Linked DNA regions of Homo sapiens: all the other regions are linked to region 1. The links come from fine-mapping of genetic effects on gene expression. A gene starts in region 1. Each other region holds a variant in brackets. All regions are shown on one strand. Distances are between the middles of the regions.

Evidence for each region.
Region 2: its variant is fine-mapped to the expression of PROK2 in whole blood (TOPMed, PIP above 0.99).
Region 3: its variant is fine-mapped to the expression of PROK2 in whole blood (TOPMed, PIP above 0.99). The same link has a PIP of 0.9 or more in blood mononuclear cells, monocytes, monocytes after LPS, neutrophils and spleen.

What each region holds. Positions count from the first base shown.
Region 1 is chr3:71,780,325-71,788,469 of GRCh38, forward strand. PROK2 (prokineticin 2) reads right to left here and starts at 4,824. Exons shown (of 4, transcript NM_001126128.2): 1 at 4,633-4,824; 2 at 1,143-1,268. The coding sequence starts at 4,728. LOC105377156 (a long non-coding RNA gene) reads left to right here and starts at 5,066. Exons shown (of 4, transcript NR_199161.1): 1 at 5,066-5,199; 2 at 5,312-5,423; 3 at 5,613-5,709; 4 at 5,893-6,103.
Region 2 is chr3:71,840,143-71,848,343 of GRCh38, forward strand. No RefSeq gene overlaps it. Among named protein-coding and RNA genes, the nearest start is that of PROK2, 59 kb to the left of the region's middle. The variant A/G (reference allele first, on the strand shown) is at 3,198.
Region 3 is chr3:71,800,563-71,808,707 of GRCh38, forward strand. No RefSeq gene overlaps it. Among named protein-coding and RNA genes, the nearest start is that of PROK2, 19 kb to the left of the region's middle. The variant C/T (reference allele first, on the strand shown) is at 4,874.

The sequences.
Region 1 (8,145 bases):
ATTCTGTTCACTCCGAGGAGGTGAAAATATTAACTGTTCTCTGGGACTGTGGAGTATGGGAATGATGTTTGGCTGTGTTACATTTTTAAACCCTAAATCACATGTGAAAAAATAAGACAGAAAATGGAATTTGGTTTGCTCTGATAACATTCTACTTGTATCTAAAAGAAAGTATACAATGTGTAGAAAGAACATTCTAAAGAGACTGAGCTCTGCCTCTCGAAAACCACCTGCCCTAGGACTTGTTGCAACGCCACTGGAGGCACTTTACCAATGGGAAAAATGCGGAGGTGGGACCAGAGGAAGGCAATGCAACCTGGCATTCCTGGGGTGCTCTGTTGAGACCACACTGTGTTTCAAAGGTTTTCAACCAGAAGGCCAAGAACCTCCAGCTCCACATGCCTTCTGCCTCCCACCCACCCGCTTCCTCATGTAATATAAACCTTCCTGACCCCTGTAGACAGGTGGGTCTGCAACCCTTGGAGATACAATCTCTCAAACCCTGTCCAATCCTGCCACCCTATGATCATGCCACTACTGTTAATAACTTTTCAAAAGTGTTATTTAGGTCACTGTGATATTGAGCTGACAGATAATAAAGCAAATTGGAAAATTAAATATCATCGATCTCTAAAATTTTGAAAAATGTGTCCTGTAGGTAGAGTCAAAATATAGAATATTTAAACTAACATACAAGAGTAATTGTATAATCGATTTTCTAAAAAATCCCAAAACACAGAGCTTCCTTACTTCTGCCTTATCAGTAGATCTAATATTAAAAGCAGTCTTTTTAAGAACTTCTATACTCAGATTTCTGCAAAGATGCATACTAGAGTATAATATATATTTTTGTTCTAAATAACTTTTAAGCAAATTCATGTGTTGCAAATTATATTGGTAAAATGCTTCTAACACCATGAGAGCAGTAACATGAAAACTATCACTGGAATAAGAAAGACAGAGGATACAATTCTTTGAAATGAAAGGGGAGAGGAGAGGGGGTAGTTTTACACTGTTATCCTTGCTAATGTCCAATATTCATTTTGTTTGTCGAGCACGTTACCCAGTCCTTCATGTCATACAGACCCTGCTCAGAGTTACCACAGTAGAACCACCATGAATACAAATATATATATACTAACTTTACGAGTCAGTGGATGGCAGCTGTCTCCCAGTTTGCCCATAGGTGTGCAAATCCTTATGCTCTTGACCCAGATACTGACAGCACAGCACATGCCTCCACCACATTGGGAGTCCTTGTCACAAGCCTGAAATGTAATAAACAAACAGATAAATATAGATAACAGGAAAGACTCAGGCTAAGGAAACCTAAAATTAGCAGTGAAATGCCCTTTAAATATCTAAACACTTGGACTTTAATAATCAGGTATATTTTTTAAATGATAACCTTCATTTACTTGTATATAGCTATTATAAAATCTGATCAGAATAGCTATTTCTCATTTTTCGAAAGTGGGCTAAATTCTAGCCCCTGGATTATGAAAATCTTAAATAAACATAAGATTTTTTTTTAAATGAAATCAGCTCTCTTTTTCCAGTGCTTTATGGCTGAATTGGCTTTGAACTTGAAGAACAAGACTATATTACTCTTATACTACACATGGCCATTAGGAACTACATAAATGGAATCACAAGATTTTGTGACTATTAACTGCAGAATACACTGGGGCCAATTTAAAAAAAGAGATTTAAATAGTCTCTAAATCTGGCATGAAACACTCCAGACCCATAAAGGCACTGATGTAAATTTCAGAAGTGCTCATTTTCCCCTTCAAATATTTGCATTTTGGTTCAAGAGACTTGACGTTTCTCACACCACTGACTTGCTTTTTCACCATTTTCTCTTTAAAGAAGTCTCATAGTTTGAAAGTGGACAGACCAAGATGCTTGCCTTATGTTACTCTTCCTTCAGGTGAATAAGCTGCAAAGAGCAAATTACTGGCTTAGCATAAACATATATGTACATTACAAAATCAGCTAACAATCCTGTAAGATCCATCAAATTAAGAAATGCAAGTAACAGGTGCAATTGTCAATAGTAATTACTCAAGTCACCTGCTTTCAATATAAAAGTTGTAAATACATACAATGAAACAATCAACTATGGAGGAATTTCCATACTCTAGTAAATAGAAATAAATAATAAAATCTAAATCTATTTGCATGAAAATGGATCTGAAGAACTATTATTCTTTCCTAGAACCAACAAAAAATAGAATGCTTTGTTTGAACCGTGGGCAGTAATCTGTTTTGGTAGTGATAAGATAAAAACATCCTGTACTATATATGTAAGAAACTAAAACCTCTATCATCTAGGCACAAATTTAAATGTACAATTAGTGGAAACAACTAAAACAGTCCTTCAAAATTCTTAGTTTTGAGGACAGTCATAACTTCTCAAGATATAAAAATATGGGTACATTCTTAACATTATTTCTCATTAAAAGTAACCAACTATTTTGCTTTAAAGTTCATTTACTTCCCTCATTAGAATTTATTTCTCAGTCTATTTAAACAAAGTATCTGGATAAAAGCTAAAAATTTCACCTTGAGGTGTTTGGATTTTATAGGACAATATGTAAATGTTTCAATTTTCCAATTTTTATCTGCATGCCAGAAATCATGTATATGTAGCCATTACATCCCATAAATAAGATGTCTAGTCAATGATCTTTTACAATATAGTTTTAACAAATCTATGTGGGCATATAAATCAATTTCAAAATACCTACATACACTACCCAAAAAACTGTGGATGTCAGGTGAAAGTTTTAGCCAGCATTTTATTTCAACAGATGCTCAATACCTCGAATTTTGAGGCCCCATGAGCTTTTTTTTATGAACCAATCAAAAATCCAGCCAAAATCTTTTAAAATTCAATCACCTGGATGTTTAACATGCTATACACAATGTATCTTGATAAGTTACTGAGTTTTTCATTTGAATCCAGATGGTTCCTGTCATGGAGACATAACTACATTTTATTGCCCTGTTGCTTTAGAGACATTTTTAAAATTCTCTTTTTGTAACACTGAGTTAAAATAACAACAACAAAAACAGCACACATAACTATATAATAAGCCCAGTCTAAGCCTCTCTAACAGATAGACAGCCAATGTGATAAAATTTTATTTTGTAACAAAAGCTTCAGTTCTTGGAAAATTTACAAAGAGTTGCATAGGTTTATATATTTTTAATTAGACAGCTGTTTCCTAATGCCCTTCATCCTTAACCCATTGCAAATCTATTCAGATAGTGTTGTCCTGTGAATGGAACAAAAAGATACTTATATTGCAAAGGGATCTTGGGCTCAGAGGATTAGGAGAAACTTTAAATGAGCCAGCAGGAGAAGAGGGAGAAAAAAATCCAATCATGTTTCAATTCTCATGTATTAGAAAGACCTGCAAAAAGTTTTTCTCAACCACATGGACTGGCAAAGCTATGCAAGTAATTTTTTGAAAAAATCTCTTTTCTAATAAATATCACAGAGCTTACAGTTAAATATCTGTTGGATATATACAAATGCTGTCATAGCAAAAGGACTTTCAAAATTCTATAAACCTAATAACTAATATAGAGAAAATAGAGCTTGATTTTTTCAAGACAAAGATACTTCCTTTAAAGTCAAATGATATTATCTATGTATCAACATTTCAAACATAGACGTTTTATTTAAATCCCATTATGTGCACTTAAATATTTGAAGTAATTTAATGAAGGTGTGAAATAATTCCTCACTTAAAAAACAGTAAAGAAGTTGAACAACCAGGAAATGATAGCAGTTTTGCCTTGTTAATGTAAACTAGACTATTTAGTATTGTACTGCAAACCCAATTTTTTCAGATCCACACAAAATTGTTGAGAGTGGGAGAGAACTGAACTAGTTCCTACTTACAGAAAAGATGAAAACATCGTCTCTAAGTTTAAACATCTACACAGCAACCTACTCCATCATTATGCTGGAGCACTGGAGGTGCTTTGCCAGGAATTAGAAATTTAAAACTTTTATGGGGATACCTCAAGACCCTGAGCGCGGGGGAAAGCCCCGGAACCCAGAAGGAAGCTCCCACAATTGCTTTTCAAAGCGCTCACATGGCCCTGGACCAAGCGATTTCAAAGGGTTTCTGCGGAGGACGCATCGGGGAGCAAACTCTTTGACTGTAGGATTAAGACTCTGGGCACTTGGGGAATTCGTCTTGGTCCTTTGCATTTCAGGAAGGGGCCGTCAAATTTTAAGGTTCGAGGTTGGAGAGCCTCCAAAAGTACTTGAGAAGACTCAGAGAGAAACTTCTTTCAGCCTAACAGAAGAAAAATGCGAGGAGTGAGGCCGTGGGTGATGAGGGAGAAGTAAGCGGGAGAAGGTGGTAATAAAGGTGGTGGGCGACATCCTTGTCACTGTTTCTTCCAGGACGCGCCCAGTGTCCCCAGCCGTCTGCTGCTTTTGGATCTGGGTATTTTCCCAAGTGCACCAAGGGGCGACAGGGGCAGGTGTCCCCGCCCAGGGCGACCCTCCCTTTGCCTCTAGCCTGCCCTTCAGGGTCCCCGTCCCAAGCCCCCTGGGCACATCCCAGGCGCGCATCAGGGGCAGACAGGTGCGCCCGGGCCGCTTACCCCGGTGATCACGGCGGCGTCCCCAGCGCGGGGCGTGAGCAGCAGCGGCGGCAGCAGCAAGAGGAGCAGGAGTGGGGCGCAGCACAGGCTCCTCATGGCGCCCTCGGGACTGGGCGGCCGCCGGAGGCAGTTGGGGGCGCGGGGCCCGGGTGCGCTGGGTGGAGCGCGGAGCGGCGGGCGGACGGGCGCGGCGGCTCCCGCGAGCCTCCGGGCCGTTATAAAGGCTAGCCCCGCCGTGACTCACGCCGGCGCCCGCCCGGCAGCACACGCGGGGGGCACGGCGCGGGCACACACCCCACGCCCCACGCGCACACGCGCGCCCGCCTCGGCCCGGCCGGCTCCCAGACGAGCACGTGCTATGCGCGGCCCCCCGCGCCCCCGCCTCGGGCGCCACGCAGGCAGCGCTCCCGGCGGGGCGCCCCGCTCTGCGCCGTTCCCTCCGCCGTCGCCCAGCCACCGCCTTTCGCACGCGCCGGAACCGCTTTTGTGGTCTCCGAGACACTCATTTGCTGTCCTGGTTTCCAAAGCTCCACGTGCTCAGCGCCGAAAACTTGCAAATCATTTGCTGTACAGATGTTTAGGGGTCGCCTACTACGTGCGGGGCGCTGTGGACACATAGGGGGCGGGGGGTGGGTGAGGGGGACACAGCAGCCCCTGAATCCATTCGTTTGTTCAGCAGGTCTATACTGGGCGCCCGCTGCGTGCCAGGTACTGCCACCGGCTCTCTCCTCACGGTGGAATAACTTAACAGAGAAGACAGACATCAATCAAATACCCTGGAAACGTGGAAGGCAGGGGAAAGAACAAAGGGAGAGCAAAATCGCCCCAATCCCACATCACCCGCGACGTGAAAGGATTTGTCCTTCCAGCTGCGGGACTCCTATTTGTTTATTTCAAGTCAGAGGCCTTCCCTTTATGCCCACATCTGTTCCCGACCCTCTCCTCTGATTTTCCTCACATGTATTTCCTCCCCTCTTCAGCCCCGCGCCAGCTCCAGGCACAGCCGTTCAGGGTGATGCCAAAGGGAAATGAGAACGCCTGGTTTCGAGTGCCAGCCTGAGGCCCCTTAAGCCCTAGGTACGCAGCTCTCTCTTCTTTCTTAAACTTTCCAGCCCAGGAAAATCACCCTTCGGTTTTACAGATGCGATAGGGCGTTATTGTGATTCCTTCATTCACGTAAACATGAATTGAGTGTCTAGTGGGTTCCAGGCACACCAGGAAAGAATAAGTGACAGATTTGCCCTCCATCTCTCATCCTAGCCTGGCTCCAAAAACTGCAGCCTGTTTCCCTCAACAAAAATGACGTCAAGAATACCTAGATGTGACCACACCGAACTTGCTTGCCCGTTTTGGGAAACCCAACTTTCTTCCTGAATAGTCAGAACCTCTGGCTTTCCTGGTCTCTTAAGAACCGCAAACTATTGAAAAGCAGATGCGTCTTTCAGCCTCTTTAATAAATGCAGTAAGGAGAGTTGGGACAGAGTTACTTTCAGACTGTGGGGCTCCCCCGTGCCAAAGCATTCAGACGAAATGTGGGGGATAGCGGGGGGAAGGCAGGCAATTATCTGAATGTTAAACAGCTGAATATTTGGAAACCCCAATCTTTGGCTGATTTTTAAAAACCTTTTTCACACGTGTTCTCATGTTTAAAAAACGCCTTGAACAGAAAACACAAAAGGAGTCAAACCCTTTTTTCAACTTAAAAAAATGTTAAAATTGGACTCACAGTGGAGTAAGTAGAAACAGTAGCAAGTGACAGACTTGTGGAAAGTTTCCTTTTCCAGTCTCCATGCCAACGCTAGCTCGGGAATGCTGCCGGGTAAATGTAAAAACCAGTCAACATGGATTTTAACATTCCTATGACTTTCTTTTAATGGTCTATTTCATATTCGCTACTATTGAATGCCAGCTTGGGTATTCCCTGCTTCTTCAAGCATAGAAAATATGATATGTCTACACAGGAAAAATCAGATTTCAAAAGTGGCTGGCTTCTTACACAGCTGTTTGGAAAACAGTCCTCATAAGGCTGTTTTGAAACAAGTTTAAAAAAAAGAAATAAGTTTGGAAACACTTAAAAATAGGGTTGTTTAGTTTCATGTTCTTTTGGAAATTTTAATTGCTTTAATGCTTTAGGAGAGAAATGAAGGCTCTTGATATGTCATCTTTGTATCTGAGGCCAAGTTTGAAAAATGAAGTCTGACTTCAATTGTTATAAAGGGAAAAATGAAAAAAAAAAAGAGTTTGGATTAGTCCATTAAAAAAGGTAGTTGGGACAACTTAGCAACAATGACATAGAAATGAAACAGTAGTTTATTGATTCTTTTCTATTACTGTAACCTGTTGATATTGCCACATGATCACTTCTGCCCAGGCATAACTGTATTAGGTGAAATGAGCCTTGTGTGTGTAAAGTGTAGCCTACCATATTCCAGCAGACCATCAAGGCTCAGCTTAAACGAAAATGCAATCTAGGAGCGTCTATAGAACCCAATGTTTGTGAGACAGGCTGATCAGGATTGGAATCCTGTGTGACCACTGGGCAAGTTACACAACCTTTTGAAGCCTCTGTTTCCGGTCTTGTAAAATGGTTATAAAATACCAACCTCATGGGGTACAACCCCTATGGAATTTAATAATACCTGCAAAATGCTTATCACAGTGCCTGGAACAGACTGGGAGCTCTGTTAGGGTTACCTCTTATTAAGCCTTATTATTTGGTCTCCCCTGACAATTTCAGCCAATGCTGATATAAGTCTTTTCTGTCCTGCCCACTATATTAGATTGTACACTTTTCATGATTAGGATCCTTGTGTCTAATTTTCTATGCATCCCTCTTGGCACACAGCACGATAATAGGCATATGGCAGGCATTCAGTAAGTGACCAGCAACAGGAATATGTCCCATGAAGGACAGTCCAGAGACAGTTACGAGAAGATCATATACAGTACAGACTCATGTCATGTATATGAATCCGTTAAAGGTAGTCACCAAAAAGCAAGAGAGATGGAAGCTTTACCTGGTGCAGATGATTCAGCCTGTCTCTTTACTTGGGGGCCACGTGACTGAAATGAAGTGAGCTGGGAGACACAGGCCTGTCTCACGGCAGTCAATTTGGGACTCAGGCTGACTGATAAGGCTCCATTTCAACATGTGCTTCATGATTGCCAGTGTAGTGGCCTATACTGTGACCCCTAGCAAGTTATTTTCAAGGCCTAAGCCCTGGTACCTGTGGACGTGACCTTATTTGGAAATAGGGTTTTTGCAGACGTAATCAACTTAAGATGAGGTCATGCTATATTAGGGTGGGTTCTAAATTCAATGGCTGGTGTCTTCATAAGAGAAATGGGAGGGAGAGCTGGATACAGAGACACAGGCTAGACTCCCCCCACCCCACCCCCCCCACACACACGGGAGAACATCAAGTGAAGATGGGGGCAGAGATTGGAGCAATGCTTCTACAAGGCAAGGAACACCAAGGATTGCCAGCAGCCATCAGGATCTGAAAGAGCAAG
Region 2 (8,201 bases), 60 kb after region 1:
CTCAGAGTGGAGAATACTCAAGGATCAAAGAGGTCAACATTACCTTTCCAGAAAGGGGGAAAATCACTTTTCAGTTCTGAAAGACCCACAAATGAACATGCTTATATCCTCTCTGTAATGGGTTGAATTGTGTCCCCTGTTAAAGAAAACCAGGGCTGGCCAGAAGTTAAAGCAGTGAAAGTAAACTGTATTCAAAAAGAAACTGTTACAATAGGGGAGAAAAGACCTCAGTATAGAACTTGGAATGCAATAATTTTGAATACAGCATGAAAAAGTGGGAATTTATGGCCAAGGAGCAGGGTGGAGGGGTTCAATGGATAGAAAATTACTAAGAGGAGACAGTAGGAGTAAGAGGGGTCTCTGGCTAAACTGACTTGATAGGACTCTTGCTGAAGGGAGGTCAAGGTGATCAGATACCAAGAGTGGGGGATGAGGCATTGGATCTGAGGGGGAAGTTGAATAGTTGCCAAGGTTGAGGATTCTTGCTAAGCTGACTTACCAGGATTGTTGCTAAGACTGGATTTTAATGGAAGAATACAAGGTTTAGGCCTAGCTTTTTGGTTTTTTTTTTGGTTGTTGTTGTTGTTGTTTGCTTTTGGCCAGGCTCTCAGAGGAGCCTGGCCAAAGGTTATTTAGAAAAAGTCTTTGTCAACCCCCAAAATCCCCATGTTGAAGCCCTAATGTCAAGTACTTCAGAATGTTCCTATATTTGGAAATAGGCCCTTTAAAGAGTTAATTAAGGTTAAATGAGGACATATGGGTGGGCCTGAATACTTTCGGAGATAAGCCCTTCAAAGTACGGCAGGCCTAATCCAATCTGACTAGTATCCTTTTATAAGAAAAAGAAATTTGGACACAAAAAGAGACACCAGACACGCATGTGTACAGAGGGAAGACCACGTGAGGACGCAGTGTTAAAGGAAAAACTTGGGCCGAATGAAATTTAAAGGAGTTTAATTGAGCAATGAACGATTGGTAAATCAGCCAGCCCCCGGAATCACAGCAGATTCAGAGACTTCAGGAGTGCCTCACGGTCAGAACAATTTACGGATGAAAAAAGAAAAGTGACGTACAGAAATCAGAAGTGAGGTACAGAAACAGCTGGATTGGTTACAGCTCAGTGTTTGCCTTATTTGAGCACAGTTGGAACACTCGGCAGTGTATGAGTAGTTGAAGTGTGGCTGCTGGGATTGGCCAAGACTCAGCGATCGTTCCAGGCGCATACTCCTAAGTTAGGGTTTCGATCTTGTCTACCTATTAAGTTAGGCTTCAGTTCGCCCACAAGGACTCAAATATAGAAGTACGGAGTCCTTCTCAGGCCATATTTAGTTCGCTTTAACAGCAGTAAGAAGGTGGCCATCTGCAAGCCAAGGAGAGAGGCCTCAGAAGGAAACCAAACCTGCGGGCACCTTGATCTTGGACAGCTTCCAGAACCATGAGAAACTTCTGTTGTTTAAGCCACACAGTCTGTGGTATTTTCTTATAACAGCCTTAGCAAACCAATACACTCTCTGAAGATCAATTTATTTTTATTTTTTAACATGGGGTCTCACTATGTTGCCCAGGCTGATCTTGAACTCCTAATCTCAGTCTATCCTCCTGCCTCAGCCTCCCAAGTAGCTGGGACTACAGGTGCCTGCCACCATGCCTGGTGTGATGATCAATCTTAATGAGCATCTTTAAGTAGAAGACAGAAGTAAACTGCTTAAGACAGAAAAAGGAAAAAATTGGAAAATATTCAGTTTATTAATTTAGGTAATAGAGACCTTTAAAAATATCAAGTGAACTCTATTGGACTAAATTTCTTTGGAAGTATGTCCCCAGCTATACTTCCTGATCCTGTGGGGGTTTTTTGTGGGTTAGGGGGGTAAGCCCTTCATCTTAAAAGATCTTTTATTACTGAAGTCCTTTTCTTAAGGGACCACAAGAAAAGACAAATCTTTATTATAACCCCATTGAACTACGTAATCTAAATAGCTCCTAGGGGAGGAAAAAAACCTTCTTAGAACACATGCCCTTTCATTTCAAAATGATAGCTCCAGGAGCATTTCCTTCATAAACCATGAAATGTCCAACGACAGAACAAACCTATTAAATTAGACTCATTTCTAATTAAATTCAAACCAGAGATATGCTAGAAGTGAAGCCGTCCGCACGGTTGTGTCAGGTTTATCATCAACCATGGAAGTAACTAGTAACTAGATGAGTCACTTTTCCTCTCTGTGTCAATTTCCTCATCTTGAGAATGAGAATCAGAATGCATTTCCTCACCAATATTTGGTAAGGATTAAAGCGGTGTAAATTGTTGTGAAATATTTAGGATAACAATGGGCTAGATAAGTGTAAGGCAGTGTACACTCAGCATTTTAAAAATTGGTTTTGTGTAGGCCAGGCATAGTGGCTCATGCCTGTAATCCCAGCACTTTGGGAGGCCGAGGTGGGTGGATCACTTGAGGTCAGGAATCTGAGACCAGCCAGGCCAAATGGCGAAACCCCATCTCTATTAAAAATACAAAAATTAGTCTGGTGTGGTGGCGCATGCCTGTAATCCCAGCTACTCGGGAGGCTGAGGCAGGAGAATCACTTGAGCCCAGGATACAGAAGTTGCAGTGAGCCAAGATTGATCATGCCACTGCACTCCAGCCTGGGCAACAGGTTTCATGAAGTTCTAAAAAAACCTTTGGAAACATACCAGAAAAAAAAAAAAGCCTTCTTGAAGTTCTAAAAAAAAAAAAACCTTTGGAAATATACTAGAACTATCCTTAAGTGGATCCTATAAGGCACATACAAATTAGCTTTCTTTTGTTATTGCTGTTTTGCGACAGGGTCTCACTCTATTGTCCAGGCTTAAGTGCAGTGGCACGATCTTGGCTCACTGCAGCCTCAACCTCCCAGGCTCGGGTGATTCTCTCCCTTCAGCCTCTTGAGTAGCTGGGACTACAAGTGCGTTCCCCCACACCTGTCTAATTTTTAAATCTTTTGTAGACACAGAGTCTGGAGAGGTTAGCCAGGCTGGTCTTGACCTTTAATGCTCAAGCAATCTGCCTGGCTCAGTCTCCTAAAGTGCTGAGATTACAGACATAAGCCACCGTGCCCAGCCAGTTTTCGTAAATAAATTGCCTAACCTCTTACTGAAGTAACAATATTACTACACAAAATAATGACAAGAAAATTACGTAAACACAGAAGTTTTCCAT[A/G]TATCACGTGTGCTGTTCTTCCACAATTTTCTCAAAGGCATAGATTCACCTCCAAATTTCTGAGCAACTGTTTTGAAAGCTTTCCGCAATGAAGCCTCCAAAACCAAACCCCTTTGTCACTCTCATTCATAACAGCATCCCCGACACCACCTTAAGTGTACCTTCCCAGATCCTTCAGCAATGTCTGAGCCTCTCTTCTCTGAGAAACTCAGCCTCTGTGGGATTCAGTGATCATGTGCATGGAAATGGTGGCCAAAGCTATATCCCACTTGTCGTCTGTGTCGAAGCTGCCAAACTTAAAATGCGTGTATGTGTGCTTGTGTGTGTGTTTTCCATCTTCTCCTCTCTACTCACCCTGTCTTAGTGTCTTAGCCAGGCATGGTAGCTCTCAGTGGTGGTCCCAGCTACTTGGGAGGCTGAGGTGGGAGGATCGCTTGAGCCTGGGAGGTTGAGGCTGCAGTGAACTATGATCGTGCCACTGCACTCCAGCCTGGGTGACAGAGTGAGACCTCATTTCAAACAAAGCAAAACAAAAACAAAAAGAAGAAGAAATGTAAAAACGAAGACTCAATCCCACTGGGGACCTCTGGGAGATGCTACAGAACACGACTCATGAAGATGAGGGGTATTTTCCACCAACTCCTATCAATTATTGGTGAATCAATGCCATGAGCATTGTTCATATTCTTTGCTTTGTTTCAATTCCTCTCTCTCCTTCCCTCCTTTCCTCTGTTCTCTCACAAAGCCAGTGGGTTCTTGTCCCTCTAATGAATGTGTCTCAGCTGCACGTTTCCTTTTTTCCTTCCACGTCTACTCATAAGCCCCTTGGACAGAGTTCTGCAGATCCTCTGAGCTGGAAGCTCTGTCTCCAGTCTCACTCCTGATCCCAGCCTGGCTAATACTCTGGTTTCTCTTCAGATTGCGTATTTTTTTCCCCTTTTACCAACCTAGCTATGCTCTATTGCTCAAATACCATTGACAGAAAGTTTTTTCTCCTACTCAAATGGGGGCACTGTTGTTTATTATATTAAAGCCTAACTATTTGGCCCAATCTTTCCTTTTTTCTCAAACCTAACCCCAGAAAATGAAATTTACATGGTGTCTTTTGGGTGACCTGTATCATCTCCTTGACCTCTGCTTCTTTCTGGCCATATCCTGCCATTCTCTTATTCAGTCTCTGCATTTCAACCATCCTTGCTTTCTTTCAATTCCTAGAACTGCTATGCTCCTTCCCACCCCAGGGCCTTAGTACATGCTGTTCCCTCCTTGTCTGTAATACTCTCTGCTCTTCATCTACTAACTCCTTCTCCTCCTTCTCTTTGCTTAGTTAAGCCTTTCCTAAGTGATCCCCTGCCCACCATTCAGCCCTCATTTTCTGTCCCCAACAGGTCAGGTTGCCTTGTTACATACTCTTATCATGTGTGTATTTCATATCACTTCTCATGATTGCAGTTAATTAATTGCATAGTTACTTCAAATATCTGGTGCTCCCAGCAGTCTGAAAATTACGTGAGTGCCTGTGTTGTTCACTGCTGTGTCTCTAACACCTAGCATGATGCTTGGTGTATTGCAAGTTCTTGTTGTATATAGAAGAATGAATATGTGCAATGCACACTATCTAGCTCTGAAGGCTTTGCCTTTCTCCTCCTGTGATGCCCACCACCTTCCTCATTTAGATGAAACACTTTGTAGATAACTATGCTCAATAAACCTGATGGATGTTTATTGATGGATCCCTGGGCCAGCAGTTTGAGAGACCACTTATAAATACAAAGGTGCACAAAATCATTCTTGTTCTTTGTCTATAACCAAAAAATCATATTGTGTATCAATTGCAAATGAACTATAATGAAACAATAATATTCTTAGGGACTTGATAACAATGTTGACTGTTGGAGACTCTTGAAAAAAATAAGATGATTTTGGGAACTTGTTAAAGCTTGTGTTTACTCTCAAATTTAAGGGAGAATGCATATGGCACTAATAGAAGTTAGACAATAGAGTGATGACTTAATGTTTTGGAAATTTAGGGGACAGGTGTGACAGCCTATTGTGTCTCAGAACAAGCAATTTGAACAAAGACATAAAGTATACAAATGGGAAGAGAATTTGATTTCACTTAATTTTATTTGGTAGAACTTAACACTTGAACAACTGCTGTTTGCTAGACTTTAAGAGTTTTAAAATTCCCCTTTCTCCCTAATGGATCCTGAAGAGAAATGTATCCATTTGTTTCATGGCAAATGTTCAATTGCAGATTTGAGGGATAATAAAAGCTCTTACCTTACTATTTAATTATTCAGTTGACTGCTAGAAAGATTAAGCTACCTAAATGGGTTTGTAACTCAGAAATGACAATATATGCTTATTTTAAAAGATAGCCATGTAATTCCAAGACAAACTAGTGGCAATCTAGATTTTTATTATGACAGTAGCAATTTGGAAATTATGCCAAAAGTTCAAAAAAATTGGCAGTCATAAGTTTGCTTTTTTACTTGATAGTCTTGAATATGCTTTCTGTGACAAGTATTATATTCCTGAAACTTCTACACTGAACACCCAGAGTGAATAATTGCATAAAATGTAACAATGAGATATTTATAAATATAATATTTTTCTATTCAACGATTACATTTTTCTATAAGAAGAGTTTGATGTATATTTAATGCTAGACCTACTTTAAAATATGTACACATTACTAAAGGGAAAATGCATTAAAAGAAACCACTGTATTATCAATTTCTGGTAAAGCTTAAAAATGTTGTCATTAATTATAGATGGAGCACTTTTCCTGTGATATATTCCTATTTGTTTGACACCTGGCAGGGCCTGCACCAATTTATTCACTTTCTCTGTTACACAGCATTCAATCCCTGGGGCCATTATTTCTGAGGGAAACCAAGTAACATAACCAGAAGCCTCCATGAATGATTCATACTAGAACACTCTAGAACATGCTGCCCAATGGGATATGCTGACTGACTAATCCAAATTGATGGCTGGAGCTTCTGTGGTGTCACAAGGAAGTGATCCACTTACCAGATCCTCGAGATTAGCTAAACCCTTTCAGCAGCTGCTGAGCCTCATAGGTCTCCCCTTGTCCGCACGTATTATCTGCAACGTTATCGGGATAGAGCATTTCCTAAACAAACGCACGCGCATAAACACTGTAAAATAGCTGCTTGTCTCTGGCACCTCCGAGACACTTAGTAGCGTCTTTATCTCTTTTATATTGAATAACCTCTTCACTAGTATAGAAGCAGTGCATTTATATTTATAGAAAATTAGGAAACACAAACAAAAACTTCACCTTACCATCACCCAGAATCACCATATGTTAGATCTTCGTCCATATGCTTCCGAATCTTTATGTATTTGTACATATATTTGTATTTATATACACACATATTAGTATGTATTCTGCTTTACCAGTGTGAGATGACACTCCACTTACTGTCTTAAAACTTACATTTTCAGCCAATGATCTTTACCTTTCCACTTCAGTACTTTTTTTTTGAGACAGGGTCTCACTCTGCCGCCCAGGCTGGAGTACGGTAGCGCAAACACTGCTCACTGCAGCCTCTACCTCCTGGGCTCAGGTGATCCTCCCACCTCAGTGTCTTGGGTAACTAGGACTACAACTACTGTCACACTGGGCTAATTTTGTTGTTGTTGTTGTTGTTGTATTTTTTGTAGAGACAGGGCATCACTATGTTGCCCAGGCTGGTCTTGAATTCCTGGGCTCAAGTGATCTGTCCACCTCAGCCGAGCCACTGTGTCTGGCCCACTCAGTATATTTTTATGTCATTGAATAGCTAAACCATATTCAAATTTCACCAATTAAGCTAAAAAGACCTTTATAACTGGCTTGTCCTCTCCAGAAATCCTCTCAAGAATCAAATCTGGCTGATATAGTCCTTATTTCTACCCAGTCTATCCTGATTTCCTTTTTGATGACATTGGCTTGTTGAGGACACTGGACTGGTTTTCCTGTGGAATATCTCACCTTCTAGATTTGTCTGATTGCTTCCTTACTGTGCCATGTAGCTGATTCCTGTACCCCTCCATCTCCTGCAAATGATAGGTTAGATCTAAAGGACTGATGGATTCAAGACAAGCATTTTTGGCTAGAATATACCATAAGGGATTCTGTATCTAGAACTACACTACTCAGTGTGGTAGCTACCAGCCACATGTACCCATTTAAATTTAAGCTTAAATAAATTAAAATGAAAAATTCAGTTCCTCAGTTGTATTAGCCACATTTCAAGTGCTCAATAGCCCCATGTGGCTAGTGGCTACCACTTAGACAGGGCAGATATGAAATATTTCTTTCATTGAAGAAAATTCTACTAGACATACTAACTAGAGAATGAGTCCATTTCTCCATCTCTTGAATCTGGGCATCACTATGCAACTTTGTTCAGCCAATAGGATACTAATAAACATCATGCAATCAGAGGCTCGGAAAATGCTTGTGTACCAGGGCTTTCCCTCTTTTGCTATTGAAACCTCGAGACCACCACGTGAAGGAGCTCAGGCCAGCCTACTGGAGGATGAGACACCACATGGAGCATGGCCCCAGCTAGTCCAGATGAGTTCCCAGAGATGTGAGTCAAGCCATCCTAGATCATCTCAACAGACCATGTGAAGGGAGGCCTCAGCCATCCAGCCATCTCTGCTAACTGCCAGACATTTGAGTGAGGTCATCTGGGATCCATCAGCCCCAGCTGGGCCACCAGCTGTCCGTAGAGACCAATAAATTTGGCCCAGACAGAAGAACCAACCAGCTGACCCACAGAGTAATAAAGAATAAGAAATGATTATTGTTTTTAGCCACTAGATTCTTTGAATGATTTGTTACTCAGCAATAAATAACTGACACATGATCAGAAAGGAATTTATATAATGTTACTTTGGTCCTATGTCTTGTTCTGTATCCCACTCACTTAATATATAAATCTTGCCTAAATCAATAATTTCATTAGGTTTTGCAAGATCAGG
Region 3 (8,145 bases), 20 kb after region 1:
TGATGATTTTCCTACCTTAAAATAATTATATTCTTTAACAGAACCTCTGGAAGAAAAAACATAGTGTGCCTCATTCTTTTTTTTTTTTTTTTTTTTTTTTTTTAAATGGAGTCTCACTCTGTTGCCTAGGCTGGAGTGCAGTGGTGTGATCTCAGCTCACTGCAGCCTCCACCTCCCAGGTTCAAGCAATTCTCTGGCCTCAGCCTCCTAAGTAGCTGGGACTACAGACACACACCACCACACCCTGCTAATTTTTTTGTATTATTAGTAGAGACGGGGTTTCACCATGTTAGTCAGCCTGGTCTCGAACTTTTGACCTCAAGTAATCCATCTTCTACCTCGATCTCCCAAGGTGCTGGTATTGCAGCCTTGAGCCACCGTGCCTAGCCAGGATGCCTCTTTCTATAGACCTATTTTCCCCAAATTTGCATGTAAATCACATTTTTGTAAATGGAATCATATTTTAAGGTCCAGCATAACTCAAAAATTGTGCAGTGAATCATGGAATGATTTTAATTTTAAAGGAGAAAGAAACTTCTGGGCTTTCTTGCATAAGCGTCTCCATTTATAGATGTGGAAATTGTGGATGTATTAGTGGGAAATGTCTTAGCTAAGGTGCATTTATAGTGAATTTGTTCTGTGATTGATATTACTATATATTTTTCTAGTTGCCAATTTTTGTTTTCGATGTTTAATTAAAGGAAGGTAGTAGACCTGTAGAACCAAAAGAAGATTATTTTTTCAGCTTCCTTACAGTTTGGATATAATTTGTCAATAATTATAAAGTTTGTAGATAATTAAAATAATACTTGTTGAGGTGTTTTTTTCCTTGGTTGCTTGATACAATGCGTTTTTTAAAAATAACTAAACCACAAATATAGGAGTAATATAGCTTGCTGTCAATTAAAATTATTTATTTAAATTGACAAGTAAAAAAGGTATATTTCATATACAGCATGTTGTTTTGAAATATGTATACATGCGGAATGGCTAAACTGAGTGAATTACCATATGCATACCTCACATATTTTTGTTTGTTTGTTTTTTGAGATGGAGTTTTGCTCTGTCACCCAGGCTGGAGTGCAGTGGCACAATCTCAGCTCACCACACCCTCTGCCTCCTGGGTTCAAGCGATTCTCCTGCTTCAGCCTCCCGAGTAGCTGGGATCACAGGCATGTGCCACCATGCCCAGCTAATTTTTTGTTTTTGTTTTTGTTTTTGGTAGAGACAGGGTTTCACCATGTTGGCCAGGCTGGTCTCAAACTCCTGACCTCAGGTGATCCACCCACTTTGGTCTCCCAGCGTGCTGGGATTATGGGTGTGAGCCACTGTGCCCAGTCATTGTTATTAACTATAGTCACCATGTTGTACAATAGATCTCTTGAACTTATTTCTCCTGTTTAACCGAAATGTTGTATCGTTTAACCAACATCTCCGTCACTCCCTCATTCCTTCCTCCCATCAAAAAACAAAAAAACAGAAAAACAAAAAAACCCTTCTAGGTTTTAAATATCTTTCTGAGAGAATAAGTTCACAGGCTAAACCAGTGATTTGCAACTGGGGTTGATGTTGTCCCCCAGGGGACATTTGGCAATGTCTGGAGACTTTTTTTGTTTGTCACATCTCGGGGGAGGTGCTACTGTGGGTAGAGGCCAGGATGCTACTAAACACCCCACACTACATAGGACAGCCCCCTACAGCAAAGGAGTAACCACCCCAAACATCCATAGTGCTGAGATTGAAAAGCCCTGGGTTAAATGAACCAGCTTTCTGCAGGTGAAGACTCTCACAGAGATCATAAGCCATGCCCTTTCACTTACTGTGTTGAGTGCTCCTTTATTAGAGTGTCACAATCATCTCTACCTCTATTAAAAAGCTAGTGTGAGAAGCCTCTTCCCTACTTTTGCATTTACCCTCTGCTGCTTCTTCCTGTGAAATTAAACAAGTGCTCTCATCTCTCTAAGGCCAATCCTTCCTCTAAGGCTTGGAGACCAGCTAGGATTAAGTTCAGCTGCATGAAACAGAAAAATCTAACGTCCTCTGGCTTTTTACCACTGGTATTGTATTCCTCACATAAAAGCAATCTGGAGACAGCAGTCCAGGGCTGGTGCCCATGCTCCACGATGCCATCAGAGGCAGGGGCTTCTTCCATCTTCCCACCCAGCCATTCTTGGAATGTTGGTCCTCACACATAGCTCCTGGTGGGGGCACCATGGCTGCTCCATCACCAGCACGGGGCCTATGTCTAGTTGGGGAGTCAGGGGAAGGGGAAAGGTTAGAGTGCTTGCAGGTTGAGAATGTCTGCCTCTTCCCAAATAGGTACTTACAAAATTGCACTTTATTTATTTCCTATGCTGCATTTATTGCATTTGATAATGGCAGATATAATGGTTAATTTTATGTGTCAAGCTGACTGGGAGAAGGGATGCCCAGATAGCTGGTAAAACATTATTATTATTATTATTTAAAGGCAGAGTCTCCCTCTGTCACCCAGGCTGGAGTGCTGTGGTGTGATCTCAGCTCACTGCGACCTCCACCTCCTAGGTTCAAACGATTCTCATCCCTCAGCCTCCTAAGTAGCTGGGATAACAGGCATCAGCCATCATGCCCAGCTACTTTTTTTGTATTTTTAGTAGAGATGGGGTTTCACCATGTTGGCCAGGCTGGTCTCAAACTCCTGACCTCAAGTGACCCACCTGCCTCGGCCTCCCAAAGTGCTAGGATTACAGGCGTGAGTGCCTAGCCCCTGACTATTACCATCTTTTAGGGACCTTGTAGCAGCCACTGCTGATGCTCAGCTCAGAAGCCCTCACATTCCTTTACCATTTCCATGCTCTCCTACTTTGGCTGCATTGTTCTTTTGCTATGTCAGTGGGACCTGCAACAGAACTGCTCTCAGGCTCCCAGAGAGGCCCTGCTCTGCTTGTGCAGAGGGCCAGAAATGCCGGAGTGCTTTTTTCTGCTTGGGGTAGCCAGTAGCCAAGGACCTGCTAACCCAGCAGAATGAAAGCCCAGCTCCTTTATTCTGACTCAGGAAAAACCCTTAGATGCAGTTGACTCTCCAGAGCTCCCTGCAGGATCAGGTGGAGTCTGGCCTTTGGTTTGAGATCGCCACTCTGGTGGGCTTCTTCCTCTTGCTTTGCCGTGTTCCCCTACTCTTACTTTGCCCAGTGTTCCCAGGAGACCCTGCCTTCATAAATCATTTTCACAAAAATCTTTATCTCTGAGTCTGCTTCCGGGGACCAGACTATGCCTTTTTAATTCACCCAGTGCCTAGCATAGCACCTGACACATAGTGGGAGTTTGAAAACTTCTTCAAGACTGGTTGAAAAATGCATAATATTAAACCCAATTAAACAAACAGTCCTGTTGGAAAGACACTTTTGAAGCCAGTCAAATTCAGATGATTCAGTAACAATTAGTAACATAGGTTTGATTCTTTTTATTTTTTTATAAGACAGAGTCTCCCCCTGACGCCCAGGCTGGGGTGCAGTGGAGTGATCTTGGCTCATTACAATCTCCATCTCCTGGGTTCAAGCAATTCTCCTACCTCAGTCTCCTGAGTAGCTGGGATTACAGGCGTGCACCACCATGCCTGGCTAATTTTTTAATATTTTTAGTAGAGACAGGGTTTCACCATGTTGGTCAGCCTCGTCTCAAACTCCTGACCTCAATGATCCACCTGTCTTGGCCTCCCAAAGTGCTGGGATTTACAGGCGCGAGCTGCCGTGCCCAGCCTTACATAGGTTTGATTCTATCTAGCAGAACTCAAATTCAAAATAACCTGGTGAAAGTTGAATACTTAAATTTAAGGTCACAGATCACTACAATATGACAGGGACCAGGCATTTTTAGTGTGTACAATTCTTCTATCAGCTTAGGTTCCTGCTCAGAAATCTGAAAGTCTCGCCCCACTACATGCCACAAACCGTTTTTTTTCCTTTTTTTCTTTTCTTTTCTTTTTTTTTTTTTTGGAGACGCAGTTTCACTCTTGTTGCCCAGGCTAGAGTGCATTGGCATAATCTCGGCTCACTGCAACCTCCATCTCCCAGTTTCAAGCAATTCTCCTGCCTCAGCCTCCCGAGTAGCTGGGATTACAGGTGTGCAGCACCACACCTGGCTGATTTTTGTATTTTTTGTAGAGATGAGGTTTTGCCATGTTGGCCAGGCTGGTCTCGAACTCCTTACCTCAGGTGATTCACCTGCCTTGGCCTCCCAAAGTGCTGGGATTATGGGTGTGAGCCACCAAGCCCAGCCAAACCCTTATTTTTTTTAAGGAGGTTGTGCACACTGGTTCCCCAGAAGCAAAGCATCAGGTAATGTTAACTTCGGTTATTGCAAATGATGGCTGGAGGTCTGGGGAGAGGGATTGATCATACTGGGCACCTGCATCTCCTGTGCAAATCTCTCCTGGGGCCTCAATGCTTACGCAGTTTGCTCCATACACCCTTGGTTTGAGTGGACCCTCCCCTGGCTCACAGGCTGCCTTTCATTGTTCTGGGTGCTCTCAAGCAGTGATGCCACTGTGGGGCATGGTGCCTGACCCCTAGAGCAATGCCTCCTCCAGGCCCCAGAGAGCTCTCCCCTGAAAAGTCAAGGCTTGAAAGAAGGAAGCCTGCCATTGGCTGAGAACTGGAATTATTACAACCCCCAATGCTGGAGGTGGGACTTGCGGGAGGTGATTGGATCATGAGGGCGGGTTTCTCATGAATGGTTTAGTACCATCCCCCCTTGGTACAGTATAGCGAGTGAGTTCTCACAAGATCTGGTTGTTTAAAGCTGTGTGGCACCTCCCCCATTTCTCTCTTCCTCCTGGGGTGGCCATGTAACATGTGCCTGCTTCCCCTTCACATTCTGCCATGATTGTACATTT[C/T]CTGAGGCCACCCCAAAAGCAGAAGCCAGTATGCTTCCTGTAAAGCCTGAGGAATCATGAACCAATTAAACCTCTTTTCTTTATAAATTACCCAGTCTCAGGTATTTCTTTATAGTAGTGCAAGAACAGACTAATACACCCATTCTTGACTTTGGAGTTAGATTAGACTTCTGAAGTTCAAATCTCGACTCTGCTACATTCAAGCTGTGTAACTTTGGGCAATTCACTCAATCCCTCTCAGCCACAGTTTCCTATTTCTCGAATGTAGTTTCCATGAGGGACTGGGTCTTGGTCTTTTCCTGCTGTTGCTATATTCCCAGTGACAAGACAGTGCCTGAAGTATGGTAGGGGCTTCATAAGTATTTTCTGAGGAAATAAATAAGGGTATTTGTGAAGGCTGATGGAAATGATGGGTAGTATCTGGCACAAAGCAATCACTTAATAGTATCTGAGTGACTATCTGGCACAAAGCCAGATCTGGCACAAAGCAATCACTCAATAAATGCTAGCTATAAATATATAAAATATACATATGAAGATGTAATTTTATTTTATTTCTTATATCTGGTAACATAGTTTCTAACCACAATGTAATGTGTTAGAATTCATCCTCTCTCATGCCTGTAATCCCAGCACTTTGTGAAGCTGAGGCGGAAGGACTGTTTGAGCCCAGAAGTCGGAGACTGCAGTAAGCTGTCATCATGCCACAGCACTCTTGCCTGGGCAACAGAGTGAGATCCTTTTTCTAAAAACTAACAAAACAAAACAATTATTTCCAAAAATTTAAAACTTAAAAAAAATTAAAAATTGAGAAGTTTTTTAAAATATGAAAAAAGAGGCATCTCCATATTTTCTGAGAGCAATAGTACATTGGTGAACACTGATTGCCCCGCATCCATTCACTTGTGTCTTTCTTCCTAACACAACTCCGATTCTGACCAAGTATAGCTTAGAAGAATGTGACCCGAGACTCTAGAAGTAAATCTTTTTTTTTTTTTTTGAGACAGAGTTTCACTCTGTCGCCAGGCTGGAGTGCAGCGGCACAATCTCGGCTCACTGCAACCTCTGCCTCCCCGGTTCAAGCAATTCTCCTGCCTCAGCCTCCCAAGTAGCTGGGACTATAGGCACCCACCACCATGCCCGGCTAATTTTTTGTATTTTTAGTGAGACGGGGTTTCACCATGTTGGCCAGGATGGTCTCGATGTCCTGACCTCGTGATCTGCCCACCTCGGCCTCCCAAAGTGCTGAGATTACAGGCGTGAGCCACCGCGCCAGGCCAGGAGTGAATCTTAAGGAGGCTATTGGCATGTGCCATTCCCCCATCACCTGCCTGCATGACTCATTGGTCCTGTGACTAGGACTGGTTCAATCAAAATGAAGGAAACATTTATATTACACACTTGGAGATGTGGTTTTTCCATTTTTGACCAGGTAGTTGAGAACAAAGAAGTATGTAGCTCCAGTTGCCACTGACAACTGTCTTGTTATTATGAGGCACTTGGAAATGAGGCTTACAACATCATGAGAAAGACGGAGAGAGTCAGTTATCTGACGACATCTTTCAGCTACTGATGGTGCCACTCCTTCCAGTTAGGTAAGATAATACATTTCCTTACTGTCTTATTTTTTATTTATTTATTTTTGAGACAAGGTCTTGCTCTGTTGCCCAGGCTGGAGTGCAGTCGTGTGATCTGGGCTCACTGCAGCCTTGACCTCCCAGGATCAAGTGATCCTCCCACCTTAGCCTCCTGAGTAGCTGGGACTACAGACGTGTGCCACCACGTCTGGCTAATTTTTGAAGTGTTTTATAGAGATGGGGTTTCACCATGTTGCCCATGCTGGTCTCAAACTCCTGGCCTCAAGCAACCCTCCCTCCTCGGCCTCCAAAAGTGCTGGGATTATAGGCATGAGCCACTGAGCCCAGCCATTTCATTATTATTATTATTATTATTATTATTATTATTATTATTATTATTATTAAGACAGGGTCTCATTTTGTTGCCTAGGCTAGAGTGTAGTGGCAGCAAGAGGGCTCACTGAAGCCTCAACCTCCCAGGCTGAAATAAGCCTCCTGTCTCAGCCCCTCATGTAGCTGGGACTACAGGCATGCGCCACTACACCTGGCTAATTTTTGTACTTTTTTAACAGATAGGATTTCACTATGTTGCCTAGGCTGGTCTCCAACTCCTGAATTGAAGCCACCCACCTGCCTCGGTCTCCCAAAGTACTGTGATTATAGGCTTGAGCCACCATGCCCAGCCACCTTATTTTTTATGTCATTTAGGATGGGTTTTTCCAAGCCTTACAGCCAGAAATATACTACCTAGTGGGCTGCAAAATTATGTAGGAGATGAAACTAAAAATGTCTTCTTCGAATAATAATAGTAATGGTAGCCAATGCCTTCTTCAGCACAGTGTCAAAACATATGCCAAGCCCTTCAGCTATATTAGCTATTTACTCTCTCAACAATCCTATGAGGTGGAGACTATTATTTACTTCATGTTTCACATGAGGAAACCAGGTATATGTCAAGTTACATACATACACACACACTAAACCCAAAACAGGTCAGTGGAAGAGCTGGGATTTGAACATAAAGGTCTAGTTTTGGAACCAGACTTATACCTACCCATGAAACCTAACCATTTCCATCAATAGATGAATGGATAAAGAAACTGTGGTATGTATACACAATGGAATACTAAGCAGACACAAAAAAGAATGAAGTCATGTCTTCCATAGCAACATGGATGGAACTGGAGACCATCAGCTTAAGTGAAACCACTCAGAAATAGAGAGATAAATACCACATGTTTTCGCTTATAAGTGGGAACTAAATAATGTGTACACATGGGCACAGAGTACGCAAAGACAGACATGGAAGACTTGGAAGGATGGGGTATGGAAAGAAGTGTATGATGAGAAATTTCTTAACGGGCGTAATGTACATAATTTGGGTTGATGGATACCCTAGAAGCCCTGACTTCACCACTACAAAATCTATACAAGTAACAAAATTATACTTGTACTCCATAAATTTTTACAAACAAACAACAAACCCCTACCCATTAAACTATACTTTAAAGTATTTACTTCTATGAAGATTCATAGTGAGAAAGAAAAAAATGGAATGTAATATGCTTCAGTTTTTTAAAAAGTATACTAAAGCTTTCATAGACAAAAATTGAACACTTGCAAAATTTTCTTGCTTGTGTACCTTTTCCAGGGAATTTGTCTCCTTTTGAAAACATGTATTCGTTTATCCAATCA